3 separate regions of the Homo sapiens genome follow, and regions 1 and 3 are each linked to region 2. Evidence: fine-mapped expression QTL. A gene starts in region 2. Each other region holds a variant in brackets. All regions are shown on one strand. Distances are between the middles of the regions.

The links. PIP is the estimated chance that this variant, and not a neighbour inherited with it, causes the effect.
Region 1: its variant is fine-mapped to the expression of GALNS in whole blood (INTERVAL, PIP 0.96).
Region 3: its variant is fine-mapped to the expression of GALNS in whole blood (TOPMed, PIP above 0.99).

The regions. Positions count from the first base shown.
Region 1 is chr16:88,877,475-88,882,474 of GRCh38, forward strand. It overlaps CBFA2T3 (CBFA2/RUNX1 partner transcriptional co-repressor 3), which reads right to left. Exons shown (of 12, transcript NM_005187.6): 9 at 3,817-4,015; 10 at 3,246-3,314; 11 at 1,796-1,986. Among named protein-coding and RNA genes, the nearest start is that of PABPN1L, 13 kb to the left of the region's middle. The variant CAG/C (reference allele first, on the strand shown) is at 2,074.
Region 2 is chr16:88,853,121-88,859,950 of GRCh38, forward strand. GALNS (galactosamine (N-acetyl)-6-sulfatase) reads right to left here and starts at 3,827. Exons shown (of 14, transcript NM_000512.5): 1 at 3,638-3,827. The coding sequence starts at 3,757. It overlaps TRAPPC2L (trafficking protein particle complex subunit 2L), which reads left to right and starts at 4,007. Exons shown (of 5, transcript NM_001318525.2): 1 at 4,007-4,063; 2 at 5,499-5,671; 3 at 6,543-6,630; 4 at 6,773-6,830. The coding sequence starts at 4,031. LOC107983950 (a long non-coding RNA gene) reads right to left here and starts at 3,460. Exons shown (of 2, transcript XR_933884.3): 1 at 3,331-3,460; 2 at 2,008-3,181. RefSeq lists silencers at 1,821-1,890, 3,560-3,959.
Region 3 is chr16:88,828,852-88,834,891 of GRCh38, forward strand. GALNS (galactosamine (N-acetyl)-6-sulfatase) reads right to left here. Exons shown (of 14, transcript NM_000512.5): 9 at 3,147-3,250. Among named protein-coding and RNA genes, the nearest start is that of APRT, 20 kb to the left of the region's middle. The variant G/A (reference allele first, on the strand shown) is at 3,130.

The sequences.
Region 1 (5,000 bases), 23 kb after region 2:
GTCTCACGCTCCAGCCCACCCAGATAGGTCTGCGCTGTGCTAACTGGACAACGACCCCTGCCTCCTCTCCAGGAAGCCCTCCTGAGCTCACCAGGCTCCAAAACCGCAAAACCAAAGGGCGTGGCCCCGGCAGGATTGAGGCTGCTGAGATCTCACCATCCGCCTCTGCTGCATCCACACCCACCCGTCCCCCTCCCCACCTCTGCCCCACCCCTGCCTCTGCTGCACCCCCTCCACCTCTGCCCCCACCCTGTGGTGGGCTCTGCTCCCTTCCCGTAGGGTGAGTTGTGCCCTAGGCATCCCTGTGGGCAGAGGGGGTGGGGGATGCCACAAAAAGCCTGTGGGCAGAGCAGGTAGGAGATGCCACACAAAGCCTGAGCATATTTCTTCTTGGGGCCTGGCTGGATCTCTCACAGACGGTTGGGCTGTGGGGTGGGAAGCCCAAACCTGCCCTAGGGGAGAAGCCCAGGTCCCTATTTGGCCTCCAAAGCCTCTGGTACCACCTCCCACCCCACCTCGCCCTCACTGCCACTGCAGCAGCAGCTTCCCTGCGGACTAGGCACTGCCAGGCACAGTCCCCGCTCCAGGCCCTGGCCCCTGCCGGTCCCTCCGCTGGGCCCGCTCCCCCGATGCCTGCGTGGCCAGCTTCATTCCTCCCGGCATCTGCTCAGGTGTCACCTGCCGTGAGGCCTCCACAGCCCCACTCCCCACACACTTCCACCTCCCGAAACTGCACGCCTCACTTCTGCGTTTGGTGTTTCCTTCTCAGTGCCAGCTCTGTGAGAGTTGTGCCTGTGGTGGTCTAGCTTCTCCCTAGCTGAGAGCAGGCGTGGAAATGGCCGGTGCAGAGACCCCTGAATCGATGGGGCTCCATCTCCTCCCACCCCGGGGCTGGCCCAGGCACAGATGCACACAGGGGCTTCAGATAGAGATCCGCCCTATCTCAAGGGACAGTCCTGGGGCTCCCCTGGAAAGGGTCTCTCCCTGTCCCCTCTTCGTGGACAAGGCAGAAAAGGGTCGCGGAGGGTCCTCTGCCCCCGCCTGCCTCCCAGGTGCACGGGCACAAGCATCGTAATTCTCAGGCCTGCCGTGTGCACCGGGAGGGAGCCGGGCGCCTCGGACGCCACCTGGGGCCCTCACAGCTCTCCTGGATCCTCCTGTTCTCACAGGCTAGAGAACACGGGTTTCAGGCCAGGCACAGCGGCTCGCTTCTGTCATCCCAGCACTTTGGGATGCCGAGGCGGGTGGATCACCTGAGGTCAGGAGTTCGAGACCAGCCTGGCCTACGTGGCAAAACCCCATCTCTACTAAAAATACAAAAATTAGCCAGGTGTGGTGGCGGGCGCCTGTAATCCCAGCTACTTGGGAGGCTGAGGCAGGAGAACCGCTTGAACCCGGGAGGCGGAGGTTGTAATGAGCCGAGGTCATGCCACAGCAACAAGATCACTTCAGTCTGGGCAACAAGAGTGAAACTCCATCTCAGCATCAGCCAACCTGGGCTCGAGTCCTGGCCCCACCGCTTCCCAAGGCCGTGACCTCAGACAAGCTGCCAACCCTCTCGAGCCCTCAGTTTCTGGAACTACAGAACGGGGACATCCATAGGACGCCTCACTGAACCATGTGGGATCTCTGTGCTGATAAAGCACAGTGTGGGCGGGGATGGCGTGCCTGCTGCAGGATGCCCGTGACAACTGTGCTGATGCCACGTGGAGGCTCAGAATCCTCATGGGGGTGGCGTGGGACCGCACGGGAGCCGAGGCAGGGGATGGGTGTCAGCGTGGCCGGGTGGCCCTACCTCGCTGGAGTCCTCCTGCTGGTTGATGACCGTCAGGGCGTCCTCGGAGGCCTGCCGCTTCGCCTCGGCCAGGGCCCGCTCCATCTTGGCACGCTCCGTGGTGATGAGCTCGTGCGCTTTGCGCTCCGCGTCCGACACGGCTTTCTGCAGCTCCGACATGGCCTGCCGCTTCACCTCATTCACGGCCTCTTCTGCAAAGGACATGGGCAGGGCTGGCGGTCACATGGGCCATCCCAGATGGGTCTCTGGACTTCCTACGCGTGGCCACAACCTGGGGA[CAG/C]GGGCTGTGTGCAGCTGAACACACGTACCATCTGTGCACACAAAGGCACATGTTGATGGGGCTGTAGGCAGCTGAACACACGTAGCATCTGTGCACACACAGACACACGTTGATGGCCCTCATGCCTGTGCAGACAAGTGCATGCAAATAAACACAGGCATCCCAGGCATGTGTGTGCAAAGCTGGGTCACGTGGTGTCACAAGTCAAAGCTTGCACTCTACCGCAGCGGCTCCCCAGGCACTGCACCCCTGCAGGGCAAGGGCGAGGCCCACCCCAGGGCCTGGTCAGCCAGGGGCGCACCCGGAATCTGCATTCCTAACGCGAGCCGGGGGAGCTGCTGCTGACCTGAAGCACTTGGATAACTCTGCCGTTCCGCCTTCACCTCTGGCCCCACCCAGACGCAGCCCAGGAAGCCCCCTCGTCCAGGGCTCTGTGCTGTCACCCCAGACCCTGCTGTTATCCTCACCGCACTTGCCATCCTTTAACCTGGCTGGCCTCTGAAGACCATGCTCCCCGACCCACACACAGCCACACACAGATCCTGATCTGTGCTAAGATGGGGTAGGCTCAGAGCAGCCTCCAGGGAGCACTGCCCACGCAGCTGGGGAGGCCATGTTTCAACTCCACCACTGAAAGAGACCCTGAGGCCAGCTGGAGACCCCGGTACCGCTGCCCAACCCTAACCCTAACCCTAACCCCAACCCTAACCCCTCTTGCTGCCCACATATCTGGCTCTGCCCCAGCCCCTCCCCCAAGGCTGATTCCCACGGCATGAGCAAATGTCCCCACAGCCTTGCCCAGCGCTCAGCTCCACGTCTGCCCCTGTTCTGACCCCATTCTGCCCGGACTCTGGCCCCGCGTGCCTGACGCGCCCAGGCTCCGAGTGTGTGCGCTTCTGCGTGCCCTCCTGGGTGTGCAGGTCCAGGACCCACTTTATTCTGCTGGGCGGCCACCGGTCCGTTTCCTGGTAGGCGCAGGTAGCAGCTGTCCTGCCCTAAGTGTGAACCTACTCTGACCTCTCCGTGAGCCACACAGCGGAATGCAGAAAGCCTTGTAGCCTGAGCCCCCAGAGAGAGACAGAAGCTCTTCAAAGCTGAGCCGGTGAGAGGCGCATCTGGGGCCCTGGCCTCCCACAGCTCTGCTGGCCAGGCCCCTGCACCCCCACTCACCAGCCTTCCTCCAGATGTCCTCAGGCACGTAGCCGGTGAGGGTCCTCGGCAGGAACTCGCGAGGCACGTCTGAAACAGGGGCCGGCGTCACACAGGATGGGCCACGCGGCTGCCCCTCCCACGCTGGGGCCCTCCCCACCCTGGCTGGGCCCTGAGTGCAGGGCGTGAGTGTGTGCGTCCCTGGGGGGAGGCCCAGGTGCCCTCGGACAAGGTCTGGCTCAGGCACCCAGGGCAGTGCCCGGGCACGGGGGGCATTGGAGCTGTGGACCTTGGACTCGGCTGGGAGCCGTGTGTGTCCTGGGCCTCTCCTGTGTCAGCATTCGTCGCTGAGGCGGAGAAGCAGAGACCCTCAGGGCCTCCCAGCTCCGAGCCTCTGGCCCACCAGACGCTCTGAGCTCCAGGCTTCCTGGCAGACCAGCCCGTGTTTTCCTACAAAGTGAAAAAGGTGCCTCTTTCTCAAGCGAAACTGTTCTGCCTGGTGTTTCGTTGCATTGCCTGCCTGACAGCTCCCAGGTGTCCGCCCCACCAGAGCACCCCGTGTCTGCTCCCTCCCCCCACACCCCACACGCACCTAGCTGAGGCCCTTCGGGACCGGCGGAGCTGCTGCGGGGCCGGGCCGCGGCGGGAGCGGGGCCCTTCTTTGTGTCCTCGGCGTCGCTGTAGCGCCGCGCCCAGTGGTTGAGCTCCTCGCGGTCGGCCTCCTGGCACCTGCGCAGCACCGTGAGCGAGCGCCGCGTCTTCTCCACCATGTCCATGATGCAGTTCAGGAGCTGGGGGCGGGCGGCGCAGCCTTCAGCACCTCAGAGGGACCGGGACGCACCAGACACTCCCCCAGCCCACTCGGCCAGAGCCCCGGACAGGATGGGTGCCCGACCAGCCCACCGCCCGTGAGAGTAAGGGGGTGAGGGAGGGCCCACCTCCATGGCTTGCAAAGATGGGTCCCTAGCCTGGGACTGCCGAGCGCCTGGGGGTACCAGACTCACATGGACACGTGCCTAGACGCACGCAGGAGTTTGGGATTCTCCTTTTTAACCCGCTCAGCGGGGCTCTGCCTCAGGGACCTGGCTTTCCGCCTGGGCTCCCCTTCCAAAAAGCATGAGGGCGAGGGGCGAGGCTGACAACAGTGCTGGGAGGGGTGCTGGCCCCATGCCTGGCGACCCCTCCTGGGACGTGCTGCAGGATGGGGTGGGTGGGTTCTGAGGAGCCCAGTTCCGGGCCGTCCCCGAACACGTCCTGCCTCAAAGAGGCCTCGGCACTGCTTTTGCCCACACTTCTTGCAAGACTCAGGATAGACTCTGGGAAGAGCCAGTGAGCAGAAAGTAAGTGGAGGGAAGCAAGGCCCGCCATGAGGGTTTTAGGAATCCTCCTCCCTGGGCCTCTCGAGATGCCTGGGCTGCGCTGACAGCTGGGAGGAGGGGGGCTCAGGTGAAGGACCCAGCCGCTGCGCAGGGACGGCGCAGGCCACACAGGAGGGCACTGAGCTCAGGGGCGCCCACACAGCCCTGCTGTCTCCAGCAGCCCCAGGCCCCATGGGGCAGAGCCATGGCCGTGTTTATGCATAGGCATACAGGTGTGGCTGTGTGGGGACATGGCTGTGTGGGTGTAGCTGTGTGTGGGCATGGCTGTGCGTGGGTGTGGCTGTGTACATGGGGGGGTTGTGTGCATGGGTATGGCTGTGTGTGTGGGTGTGGCTGTGTGTGTATGGCTGTGTGTGGGTGTGGCTGTGTGCGTGGGCGTGGCTGTGTGCGTGGGGGT
Region 2 (6,830 bases):
GGAGCCTGTAGTCCCAGCTACTCGGGAGGCTGAGGCAGGAGAATTGCTTGAACCTGGGAGACGGAGGTTGCAGTGAGCTGAGATCACACCACTGCAATCCAGCCTGGGTGACCAGAGTGAGACTCCATCTCAAAAAAAAAAAAAAAAAAAAAAAAGGCCTAAAAGCCCCCAAATGATTGTCCACGTTCAGCGAGCACAGCTGTGAGCCATGGATCAGTATCCTTCAGAATTTCAGAGTTTTAAGAAACGCAGTTTCCATTCCTACTGGTTGCTATGGGATTATTATGAAGACGAGCAGGCCAGTGCTTGTCTGTTTCAAACGAGGGGCACTGAGCAACCCTCCCCGGACTCTGGTGGCTCGACGAGGCTGCTGTGGCAACAGGAGCTGGCCTGGGTGGCCCTGACTCTCCACTTCCTCTGTGGTCAGGGCTGACCCTCCTTAACCCTATTTTCCAAATAAGGAGTGGAGACACAGAGTGCTGCTCGCCCTGGGAGGCAGGAGCTGTGTGTGGGCCAGAGTGGAACTTGTCACTGGGTCTCACCTGTCTCCAAGGCCCCAGAAGCCCTGGAGAGCAGAGTGGGCCACGCAGGTTTCCTCACTCACGCAGCAGGTGCCCAGGGTACTACGAAGCCAGGCCGCGCTGGACCGTGGGTCAGTGAAAGGCCAGGGCAGGGCAGCCCTGGGGAGTGCAGGTAGACCCGTCCTTGCCCGGCTCAGCTCCCCCTGGACAGGTGGGGGCTCTTGCCAGCTGCTCTCACCCCTGAGTCCCAGCTTCCCCTTCTGGTCCCGACTCTGGGGGCAATGGTTCTCTCCCGGGTCAGTGTGACCAGTTGGAGAGTGGCTTCTGGCCATGAGGGGTGCAATAAGCTAGTTTTGGGGACAACCCTTTTCTGAAACTGCACTTGCTTAGACGAAAGGGGGGCCCAGGCCCCCCACTGCCCAGCCACAGAGGACTGGATAGGGGGAGACTGGGCTGGAGGCAGCCGGTCCCTGGAGGGCCATGCTCCAAAATCTGAACTTGAGACATGCACACTCGTCCTCAAGTGGTGCTGGGCCCAGAGCTGTGGGTCATCAAGCCATCCCATGTCATGCCAGAGGCCGAATGACCTGTTGCAGGTTCAGACGCCAGCGCCCTGGCAGAAACAACCGGTCTGCAGTGCAGGAAGAGGTGTGGACAGGGCTGCGGAGGAAGCCCCGGACTCCAAGGAGAGAAGACAGCCTGTGAGGACCCCCTTGCACCCTGGGCCACGTCAGGGCACCTCGGGGCTCCACTGTGAGCTTCTGTGGCTCTCACCTGCCAGCATCCCTGCCCTGTCCTGGCAGCTGCACCATGGGCCCTTCAGGGAACCCCCTCTCTGCTGGGTCCAGGCAGATGAGATGATCAGGGGCAGTCTCCCTTCTGGGGTAGGCCCGAGGCTCCGAGGCCTGGGCTGGACAGGTCAGCATGTGCCCCTCCCCCAGTGTGCTTGGCGCAGGGCTGAGACCCACATCACGCTAACATGACACGGGCAGAGCCAACCTCCCACTGGGTCTGCTGACTGCAGGGGTGACTTGGAGTCACCTAGGACCATCACAGGCTGAGTGAGGATGTGGCCAGTTCAGAGGCAGCAGAGCCACGAAAGGGGAAACTCGCCAGGCGGCCCTGGTCTGTCGACTCAGGAGGGCCAGGGAATCCCCACTGTTGCTTGTCACTTTGACTTCATCTTCTGCTGTCTGCATCAGAAAGTCCTTACAAGTACACCTACCGGCCAGGACACAGCTCCTCTGGGGTTCTTTAGGCGTCAGCTGCCAAACGACCCCACAAGCCACACAGTGGAGGCCACAGAACAGGTGCCCAGGTGGGCGGGGCTTCCTGTCACCCTCCCCCACATGTGCCCCGGTGGCCACACCCCACCCCTCCACCCTGCACGGCCTGAACCCTTGCTGTCCTATGGAAACGTAGGGTGAGTCCACATGCAATTCCCTATTTACCGGGAGCCACATTAGAAAAGCAGAAGTAGGTGAAATACAGACTAACTTTATATTTTATTTAACCCAACATAACCAAAATATTATTTCGACAAGTCTTCAACATAAAAAATTATTCATGAGCTGCCCCGCCTCACCCCTCTGTCCTCTGAGAAAGTCAGGAAAAGCAGAAACTTAACAGGGAGGCTTCACCTGCAGAGCCCAGCTCATCCAGCGAAGCTATGCTGGCCCAGAAGGAGTTACACAATGAAAAGAAGAAATTCTGAAACAAAGTATCTACACTGGCCCAGAGGAACTTCAAAAGTGAAAGGATGAAATTCTGAAGCAAAGTATCTTTAGGAGGGAGATGCCACTCAGTGCAGAGAAAGGCCCGGCTACTGCTGTCAGGACACGGACCCCTGGGCGCTGGAGAGCGTGCTCTGGAAAGCAGTCACTGCACACAAATAAGACATATGAGATGGAAAAGCAGCTGCCCAGGACTGTCGGCTGTCACCCCTGGGTGGGGAAATTATGGGTGGTGTCTGTTATCTTTTCAAGTATATCTTTATGTTAAAAAACCATTAATTTAATAAAATTGTTAAGTGAGATATTTTACATTATTTTTCTTTCACCAAGTCTTCTAAATCTGTGTATTTTACACTACCAGCACCTTCCAATTCCGACAGCCACGACTGCCCAGCCCTTGGGTGTGGCCCGTGGCCCCCACTGGTCAGCACAGGTGGGTCTGAAGGCACCTGTCAGGGTCTCTGCTGGTCGGAGCCAGCACACAGGGGCTGAGCGACACCGACGGCCCAAAACTGTCTGGTACTCGGTGTCGTCCCAGTCCTCACACACAACGTGAGCACGGCGGGACAGGTGTAACCCCCCAGGTGTGGCAGCTGAGGTTCAAGAATGGAAGTGACCCCCAAGCTTGGAGACAGTAGGGTTTCAACCCAGGTGTGTCTGGGGTCCTGCACGGTGACCCATGCCCCAGGCAGGCTCATTCCTGAGTCTCCAGGTGGCTCCCACAAGGAGTTAGGGAAGGAGGCCTCCAGGCTGGCTGTGACCCCTGACCCCGCACTTGCCCACCAGGAGACATTCCAGCCTTTCAGTTCTTCAGACCTTAGGGACACCTGACCTTCGCTCAGCATTCTCCAGAGGACAGAGACAGCCGTCAGGTAAGACTGGAGCCCAGCGGGGGGACCCGGCGGCCCGAGGTGGCGGGAGTGATTCCTAGGGCGACGCAGCTCTCAGGCAGGGCGGCAGGAGCAGCCTCTTCCTCCCTTTGGGGAGGCCACGCTGCGCGCCCACCTTTCCCAAGAGTAGAGGGCGGGAAAGGTCAGACGGGGGAGGCAGGGCCCGGTAGCACGCCGGCCACCCACCTGCCAGGGAGGACGCTGTCCCGGTCATGCAGCACAGTGGCAGCGCGTGTGGTGATCGGTGACCGCCGAGACCCCACGCCTGGACCCCGCGGCCACTCCCCGAGGGGCCTCCCCCTCCCCGCACGGGGATACCCCCCGTCCCCTCCCCCTCCTCCTCCCCGCGCGGGGCCTCCCCCCTTCCCCAAGGGGCCTCCCCTCACCTCTCCCCCCACCCCGCCCGCCCTTCCCCCACCTCGCTCCTCCCTCCATCCGCCCCTCCCCTCCCCGCCCCACCCCGGCCCTGCCCCGTCCCACCGCCCGCACTCACGTCGTCCATGAGCAGGAGCAGGATGTTGGGGGGCTGCGGGGCGCCCGAGGCCCCCATCCCCGCGGCGCTGAGCACCAGCAACAGCTGCCACCACCTCGTCGCCGCGACAACCGCCGCCATGGCAACCACGGGAGCCGCGGAGCCCCGGCCAGCGAGCCGACCTAGCGAGCGTCCGCCGGCCCTTCCGGCTGGGCTGCGGGGCGGGGCCTGGACGGCCACGTGACTCGCGGGGCGGGGCCAGAGTCCGCGGAGGGACGGGAGGCGGGGCCTGGACTGCCTCGTGACCAGTGGGGCGGGGCCTGAGCCAGCTGTGTGCGGATGGGGCGGGGCTTTGGAGGCCGCGTGACCAGCGGCGGGTCACGTGACGCGGTGCCTGGCGCCGAGCCTCCCAAGATGGCGGTGTGCATCGCGGTGATTGCCAAGGAGGTGCGTACGCGCGGCGTGGGGCGTCCGGGCTCGCACCATCCTCGGCTCTCCGCTTTCTTTCTACTTCTTCCCTGGGCTTAGAAGGCACCTTAGGAAATGGGACCTGGAGGAGGCCTTCGCCGAGCTCCAGCGGTCAGGGGCTTCGCGGTGGACGAGCCGCCAGGCAGACCCTGACTGAGACCCCAGTTCCGCGCTCGCCCGTCCCGCTGCTGAACGCACCCCTCGGCGCAGCAGGTCTCCTCCCCGCCAGGACCCACCAGAAACCTAGGTGGTCCCGGGCACTACCTCCGTCCTCCGTCCTCAGCAGGTTCTGCCCGTTCTCCCGTCCAGCGCTGGTTCCCCGCGGACGGCGGCCCCGGCCCTCCTGCCAGTCTCCCCGGAGCCGAGTTAAAAACAAATCGGATCCTGTCACGCCTCTGCCTGAGACCTCTGCAGTGGCTTCTCGTTGCCTTAGGATGCTGTCTGAATAACCTGCTCTGGGATCCTTTCCCCCCATAACCCTTGGCACTCTCCGCTCCAACCAAACAATTCTGCAGCTCCCTGGACATGCTCTGCCCTCTCACCTGTGGGCCTTTGCACGCGGAACACCTCTCCCCAGCTCCCATCCTCTTTACTGGCCCACATACATTTCAACTGGAAAGCATTTTCTGAAGGCTAAGACTGAGCTGGGTGGCTGCCCACACGCTCCTGCTGCACGGAGCCTTCATTTCCTAGCCAGGGTCTCCCGAGACCAGACTCGAGACCGCTCCCTGCTGGGCGGTGGCTGCTGCTAAGCTGCTCATGGGCTTCCCTCTTGGCCAAGATGATCATTTGCTTGTTTGTGGGTTTATTGACTAGGTATCACTCCCCACGAGGGTAGCGAGGACTCTTGTTCACTGTATTTGTGCAGGACCCAGTGCTGAACACACACAGGGTAAATGGTGGTGTGTGAAAGACCGAGAAAGAAGCTGTTAATTCTGGGCTTCCAATGGTCAGAAATGCAGAGATGAAGGGAATTTGAGCTGAGTCTTGAAGGGTTTAGTAAAAGGGTCACTGTCAAGGTGAAGAAAAGCCAGTATTGAGGGTGCTGTATTTGGGTGAGCCATGCAGAGTTAGAGGTGGGCTGAGGCAGAGTGGCCTCCAGGAGAAGGTGAGAGGCGTGCCCAGGTGCCAGGCTTGATCGGCAGGCTGTGCTCAGGCCCATTTTTCTGATTCATTTTTTCTTTTCCGCCCACCCTACTGCTGCTGCTTTGCAAACAACACATAAATCTCCTTAGGTTAGCTGGGATCCCCTGAAGGCAGTGCCCACTGCGGCATAGAGAATGAAGCGGTGGGCCTTAGAGCATGGGAATGCGTTCCCCGGGTGGCTGCAGGTCACGGCTCTGCAGCATAGTTCAGAGCTGGTGTGCGCTGGGTGGAGTCTTGTCCTTTCAGTCGCCGTCATCCTTTCTTGCAGAATTACCCCCTCTACATTCGCAGCACCCCTACGGAGAACGAGCTGAAGTTCCACTACATGGTGCACACATCTCTGGACGTGGTGGATGAGAAGATCTCCGCAATGGGGAAGGCCCTGGTCGACCAGAGGGAGCTGTACCTGGGCCTGCTCTACCCCACGGAGGACTACAAGGTGTATCTTTCAGGGCAGGGTGTGTGTCAGGGAGGACCTACAGTTGCAAGATGTACTTTAGGATCAGATAACTTGAAACCTTTTAGAAGAAAAAGAGGTGAGAGTTTTTAGCCAGCCAGGGAATTAGGGTAGCTTGAGGTGAATGAAGGCCTGTAACTCTTCTCTTTCATTGGAAGAGCCATTTGGGAAAAGCAAGGCTAGAATTCCCCGTAGAATGTTTTGGTTTGCACGTGTCCGTTGTCTGGTTTGCAGAGGAAGTGGGACACTTCTGCTTTGTACCTGCAAGGATTTCTTTCTGTGCTTTTCAGGGGGAGCCACCACCTTTGAGCAGGGGATAATAGTTTCATTTATTTCATTAGGCCTTGCCTCTTATGTCACTAGACACTCGTCTAGTCCCTTGGGACAAATCACTTGAGGCCATGGAATTCAAAGACCTTCCCAAAAGTCATCATGTAGCCTGTCCATGGTGACATTTGCTAGTAGCCACTATTTTACAAAATAATGTGGCCTCTAGAGAGGGGATCCGCCTTGTTCACGAAGCCTCTGGTTTTGCAGTTAACTTTCCGGGCCAGGCATTGATTCATGAAGAGGGTGAGGTGTTCCAGACAGACAGACTCGGAGTCTAGGTGGTTCGGCTCCTGGAGTGTGAACTGGGTAAGGCTTGGCTGCCTGCTCTTCGCTTCTCCTGCAAACACCAGACGTCGCCCTAGCAAAGTATTTAGGCTTGTACCCAGCACGGCCACTGCAGGACCAGCCCAGCATGGGCATTTCCTGTGATTCAAGGTTGCCACATTTCTCCAAAGTGAGGGCCCACAGAGGGCCCTCCACCGGCAGTCCCTGTGTTACGAGTGCCTTCCCTAACCAGCTGTGCAGATACGGCTACGTCACCAACTCCAAGGTGAAGTTTGTCATGGTGGTAGATTCCTCCAACACAGCCCTTCGAGACAACGAAATTCGCAGCGTAAGTCAGGGAGTTAGAGGGCCACGCCCGAGTGGGTGTTTTGTTTTTCCTTTTTGACTTTGTTTTGAAATGCTGAGAAACTAAAAATCTGGCAGTGGCTGTGTGTATGTGGCAAGGTCATGGTTTGCTGGGTCTTTTTCAGATGTTCCGGAAGCTACACAACTCCTACACAGACGTGATGTGCAACCCCTTCTACAACC
Region 3 (6,040 bases), 25 kb before region 2:
TGGCTCCCAGCCTGGGGAGCAGAGCCCCAGCCCTGTCCCGGCCTGGTGGGCACCCACTGCAGTGGGGAACCTCACATCTCCCAGACCTACGCAGGTCCCGAGTCTCATGCCATCGTCTCCCAGACCTACGCGGGTCCCGGGTCTCACGCCATCGTCTCCCAGACCTACGCGGGTCCCGAGTCTCACGCCAACGTCTCCCAGAGCTACACGGGTCCCGAGTCTCATGCCAACGTCTCCCAGAGCTACACAGTTCCTGAGTCTCATGCCAACGTCTCCCAGAGCTACGCGGGTCCCGAGTCTCATGCCAACGTCTCCCAGAGCTACACAGTTCCTGAGTCTCATGCCAACGTCACAGTGTTCACTGAGTGACCACCGGCCACTCCCTGCAGGTGCCCCCACACAAGAAACCAAATGGCCCATCCCTACCCTCAGGGGGATGGCGCTCAGGGGAGTGGAGGGGGCGGCACAGCTGCATTCTGTCCTAGGGGCACCCCACACCACAAAGGAGGCCGTGCCCACCACCCATGCTTCTCCTGCACAACAAGGCGGTCACTCTCACAGCCACTCTGCCCTTCACACGGAGCCGCAGCTGCCTTTTCAGTGAACCGTGGGGTCTCTTCCACCTTCAGGGTCCTGGGAACTTGGGGTGGCCCAGGAGTCCCATGTCAGACAAAGGCTGCCCTGGGCAGGGTCTGAGGGAGGCCCAGACAGCTGTAGAGAACAGGCGCCCTTGGCAGTTGCCGCCCCCAGTCCCACTGGCTGCTGGGGACACAGGGGACTGCCCAGGCATGGTGGGCAGGAGTGCAGGATCCACAGCCAGGCGCCTGCTCCCACCTCTGCTCCCTAGTAATTGGGGGACCCTGACAGACGACTTCCTCTCTGGCCTCAGTTTCCTGATGTGTAGAATGAGTGGGGAAGAGGAGGATCTGGCAGAACAGCAGCCAATCCCTGGGCCTTCAGGCGCGCGACCAGGCCAGGCAATTGAGGCGGCAGACACAACGCAGGCCGCTCATCAGCGAGGCTCGAAACAGGGAGGCCAGCCTGGGTGAGCAGGGGGTGGGGTGGGACACAGCCACAGGGTCCTCAAAAGTGGAACAGGCGCCGGGCGCGGTGGCTCACGCCTGTAATCCCAACACTTTCGGAGGCCGAGGCGGGCAGATCACGAGGTCAGGAGATTGAGACCATACTGGCCAACATAGTGAAACTCCGTCTCTACTAAAAATACAAAAATTAGCCGGGCATGGTAGAGCATGCCTGTAGTCCCAGCTACTCGGGAGGCTGAGGCAGGAGAATCGCTTGAATCTGGGAGGTAGAAGTTGCAGTGAGCCGAGATTGCACTACTGCACTCCAGCCTGGGCAACAGAGTGAGACTTCATCTCAAAAAAAAAAAAAAAAAAAAAAAAAACGTGGAACAGGAAGGCCAGGGACAGATGCCTGCGTGCTGCTGGCTTTGACGGTGGAGGGGCCAGGAGCTCAGGAATGGGGCAGCTACTAGGATTGGGAAAAGGCAGGGAACAGAACATCTCCTGGAGCCTCCAGAAGGAGCTGGCCCCACGCACGTCTTCACTCAGCCCCATGAGCCCCATGTTGACTCTGGCTGTCGTCATGTGTGATGTTCCAGCTGCCACTGGGAGCCCCCCCCATCCTCGTGGGGCCACTTGAAGGGGATGGCTGCCTCTGGAGGCCATTGGGAGGGCAAAAGACTAAGAAACAGTGAAGAAACAGCGGTCGTTTACAAACACCAGACTCAGCCCCGCGTGTTGATGGGTATGTCTGGCTCAAGTGCCTGTTACAGAAGACCACACGGTGTGATTCTCAACCGAGGGGCAGCTTCCTGGGCCAGAGGAGATGCAGTGACAGCATGAAGGTGGTCACACTGAGATGGCAGGGCGCACCCTCGCCCAGCCAGGACCCAGGCCACCACCGAGGTCCGCACCCCATGCGGCAGACAGACACCAACGGTCTCGTGTCGGGCTGCTGCTGTTCTCTGAGTGTCCTTAGGACACTGGCCTGAGAAGATGTGCTTTGGGGGAAAAAACGACCGATTCTGTAGTAGACAGACAGGTTTTTAAACACTCAGCCTGCTCTAAGCCCCTTCTAGAAGCTCATGGTGCCCACCAGCATGCTAAAGGCACTGATAAGTCCTGCAGGGAAGAAACCTGTTTAGCTCCATTTAACTCAGGACTGCTGCGGTGACTGGACCACGGATGTCTCCTCACCACACAGTCATTACCAGCACCCACGTGACACACGGCAGTATACGTGGCTCCAGTCCCCACCGAGAGCCTTCCTGCCTGTCTGACCAAGCACAGCAAGCCCTACACACCGAGAGCCACCGAGAGGGACCTGGTTCCGAGGAGAGCGGTGAGGCCGAGCACGGGGTGCGTGGGGAGGAGAGCGGTGAGGCCGAGCACGGGGTGCGTGGGGAGGAGAGCGGTGAGGCCGAGCACGGGGTGCGTGGGGAGGAGAGCGGTGAGGCCGAGCACGGGGAGCGTGGGGAGGAGAGCGGTGAGGCCGAGCACGGGGTGCGTGGGGAGGAGAGCGGTGAGGCCGAGCACGGGGTGCGTGGGGAGGAGAGCGGTGAGGCCGAGCACGGGGTGCGTGGGGAGGAGAGCGGTGAGGCCGAGCACGGGGTGCGTGGGGAGGAGAGCGGTGAGGCCGAGCACGGGGTGCGTGGGGAGGAGAGCGGTGAGGCCGAGCACGGGGTGCGTGGGGAGGAGAGCGGTGAGGCCGAGCACGGGGTGCGTGGGGAGGAGAGCGGTGAGGCCGAGCACGGGGAGCGTGGGGAGGAGAGCGGTGAGGCCGAGCACGGGGTGCGTGGGGAGGAGAGCGGTGAGGCCGAGCACGGGGTGCGTGGGGAGGAGAGCGGTGAGGCCGAGCACGGGGTGCGTGGGGAGGAGAGCGGTGAGGCCGAGCACGGGGTGCGTGGGGAGGAGAGCGGTGAGGCCGAGCACGGGGAGCGTGGGGAGGAGGGTGGTGAGGCTGAGCATGGGGTGCGTGGAGGCTGAGCACAGGGTGCGTGGGGAGGAGAGCGGTGAGGATGAGCACGGGGTGCATGGGGGAGGTGGCCAGTGAGGGGCGCACACACCCTGGGATGGCTGCAGGCCTGGACCTGCTGCCCGGCAGACC[G/A]GTGGACGCTGACTCACCTGGCCTGCAGTGACGTGCCCTGGCCACCATGCGAGGGCAGGCTCCCTCATCCCTCCTTCAAACGTGGTCTGCTTCCCACACAGAAAGGGGCCGTTGCTGCCACCTGGGAGAGAGGGGCCCTTGTCAGGCCACTGGGACCAGATGTCCCCAGGCCCTCCCCCTCCCTCCCCACTGAGTCACTGAGACTGGTCATAGGGACAAAGGGCCCGGCCAAGGCACTCTGGCTGGAGTGCATGATCCGAGCCTCGGGGTGGCTCTCCAGGGGCTCATCTGAGATGCCGCGGCTGCAAAGTCTCCTGGAGAAAGTGGGGACATCATGCCCACTGAGGAAATGGAAACACAACCATACGGTGTCAGCAAGACTCAGAGAGGTACACTCCCGCAGCAGAGGCCCTGGGTGCCACGTGCGCAGCTGCCGACTGGTGCTTCCCGAACGTGAATGTTCACAAGCCTCCCGGTGTTTGGGGTACTTAAAATGCAGCCAACTTCTGGCCTCCCCATGGTTCTGACTCAGTCAGTCACGGTGGGGCGTAGGAATCTGTGTTTCTGACAAGCCCCCAAGACCGGATTTTGGTTTCTGAACCATCACTTGTGGGAAGTGGTCACGGGGCAAAGGCCATCTCAGGTGACTACACCATCCCTGGCTCACTCCCAGACATGGAAGAAGGGGGTGGGGGGCCCACGTCAGGGACAAAAGCCACCCCTGCTGCTGTAGCCTGAGCCACTTGAGGCTCTCTCAGCTTCGGGTCCCCTGAATAAAAGGGAAAAAGGAAACGAAGGGGCCGGCTGCGGTGGCTCATACCTGTCATCCCAGTACCTTGGGAGGCCGAAGCAGGGGGACTGCTTGAACTCGGGAGTTCAAGACTAGCCTAGACTGGTTTCTACCAAAGAGAGACCACGGCTAAACCCCATCTCTACAAAAATACAAAAATTAGCTGGGTGTGGCGGCACGTCCTGTAGTCCCAGCTACTCAGGAGGCTGAGGTGGGAGGATTGCTGGAGCCCAGGAGGTCAAGGCTACAGTGAGCTGAGATCGCGCCACTGCACTCCAGCCTGGGCAACAGAGCGAGACTCCTTCTCAAAAAAAAAAAAAAAAAAAAAAAGAAAATATTTTTCCGGCAGTGAAAAAGTGAACCATCCAGGGGAGGCAAAGTCACCGCAGCTCCTTCCTGCGCTGCCATCCAACCCCGAGCGGCAGCGTGGGGAAGCCTCTGAACGGAACCTCGCAGGCAGCTCTGCTCAGAGCCCCTCACGGGCAAACACGCCAACACCCGCAACCCGGCCTGTCTCAGGGAGGGCCCTGCTCACAGCAGCAGAGCCACAGAACCTGTGAAGGGACAATGGACACTGAGCTGGGGACACTGGCCACTTCTAGGGGACACTCAGGCTCACAGGAGGCCATGCTGTGCTTCTTCTCCTTCCCTCCCTCCCTTTCTTTCCTTCTCTCTCCCATCCCCTTTTTTTTTTTTTTTGACATGGAGTCTCGCTCTGTCGCCCAGGCTGGAGTGCAGTGGTGCGATCTCGGCTCACTGCAAGCTCCGCCTCCCGGGTTCAAGTCATTCTCTTGACTTAGCCTGCCCAGCAGCTGGGACTACAGGTGCCCGCCACCACGCCTGGCTAATTTTTTGTTTTTCAGTAGAGATGGGGTTTCACCGTGTTAGCCAGGATGGTCTCGACCTCCTGACCTCGTGATCCACCCGCCTCAGCCTCCCAAAGTGCTGGGATTACAGGTGTGAGCCACCACGCCCAGCCCCCTCCCCTGCTTTCTTTCTCTGGGATGTTCTGTTTCTAGTCTTGTGCTGGGTGCTGGGTGTGTGGGTTCTCATCTTGTTACAAATAGGTACATATACCATTTGTTGGTATGAAACATGCCATTTGTTGGTATGAAACATTCCATCATTTAGAAATGAAGACTCAGGTCGCTGGGACCCTTGCCCCTGCTGGCTGGTGGTTGTGGGTGCTGGCGTCGAGGTGGGCCCCCCCGGGCTCCCCATGGGGAATGACGGCCAACACCACCCTCCCCCCACCCAGCACCCTGCCTCCTGGGAGCTGCCTGTAGCCCTCCACACATGGGTCTGTTGGGGGCCTCGACTCGTGGGTCTGACTCCAGTGGGCGGGAGATGGAGCTGTCCGGAGGGCCTGCACGAGAGCCAGGCTCACCCAGGGGAGCTATCTGGTGGGACGTGGCGCGAGGGAGCCTATGCTTCTGTTTTGGCTTTCAGCTGTGCTGGTTTCTATCACTTGAAACTCTGAAGCCCCCAATCCCCGCAGCACACTGGGCTGTAGGCGCCCCCCGACATGGTCTGGGACGAGGCTGTAGGGCTCTCCCCACCACGTGGTCTGGGAAGAGGCTGCAGGGCCCCCCCCCGCGTGGTCTGGGAAGAGGCTGCAGGGCCCCCCCGCGTGGTCTGGGAAGAGGCTGCAGGGCCCCCCTCAGCGTGGTCTGGGAAGAGGCTGTAGGGCCCCCCCCGTGTGGTCTGGGAAGAGGCTGCAGGGCCCCCCTCAGCGTGGTCTGGGAAGAGGCTGTAGGGCTCTCCCCACCGCGTGGTCTGGGAAGAGGCTGCAGGGCCCCCCTCAGCGTGGTCTGGGAAGAGGCTGTAGGGCCCCCCCCGTGTGGTCTGGGAAGAGGCTGCAGGGCCCCCCCCCGCGTGGTCTGGGAAGAGGCGGGTTCAGGTTTGTTGGCGCTGGGGATGGGTCAGGCATTCATCAGTGCCGAGCGGGGGAAAGGCTGAAGCTCCATCCCAGGAACCACTTGACAGGGCTGTGGTGGGGGCAGGAGTCCATCTTCATGGAGGCAGCCCGGCCCCTGGGTGACCAGGTCCAGGCCACACTCACAGGGCTGCTCGGGGTCTGGGGTGCCGGCCCCCACCTCAGCAGGGACACCCTGCTCCACC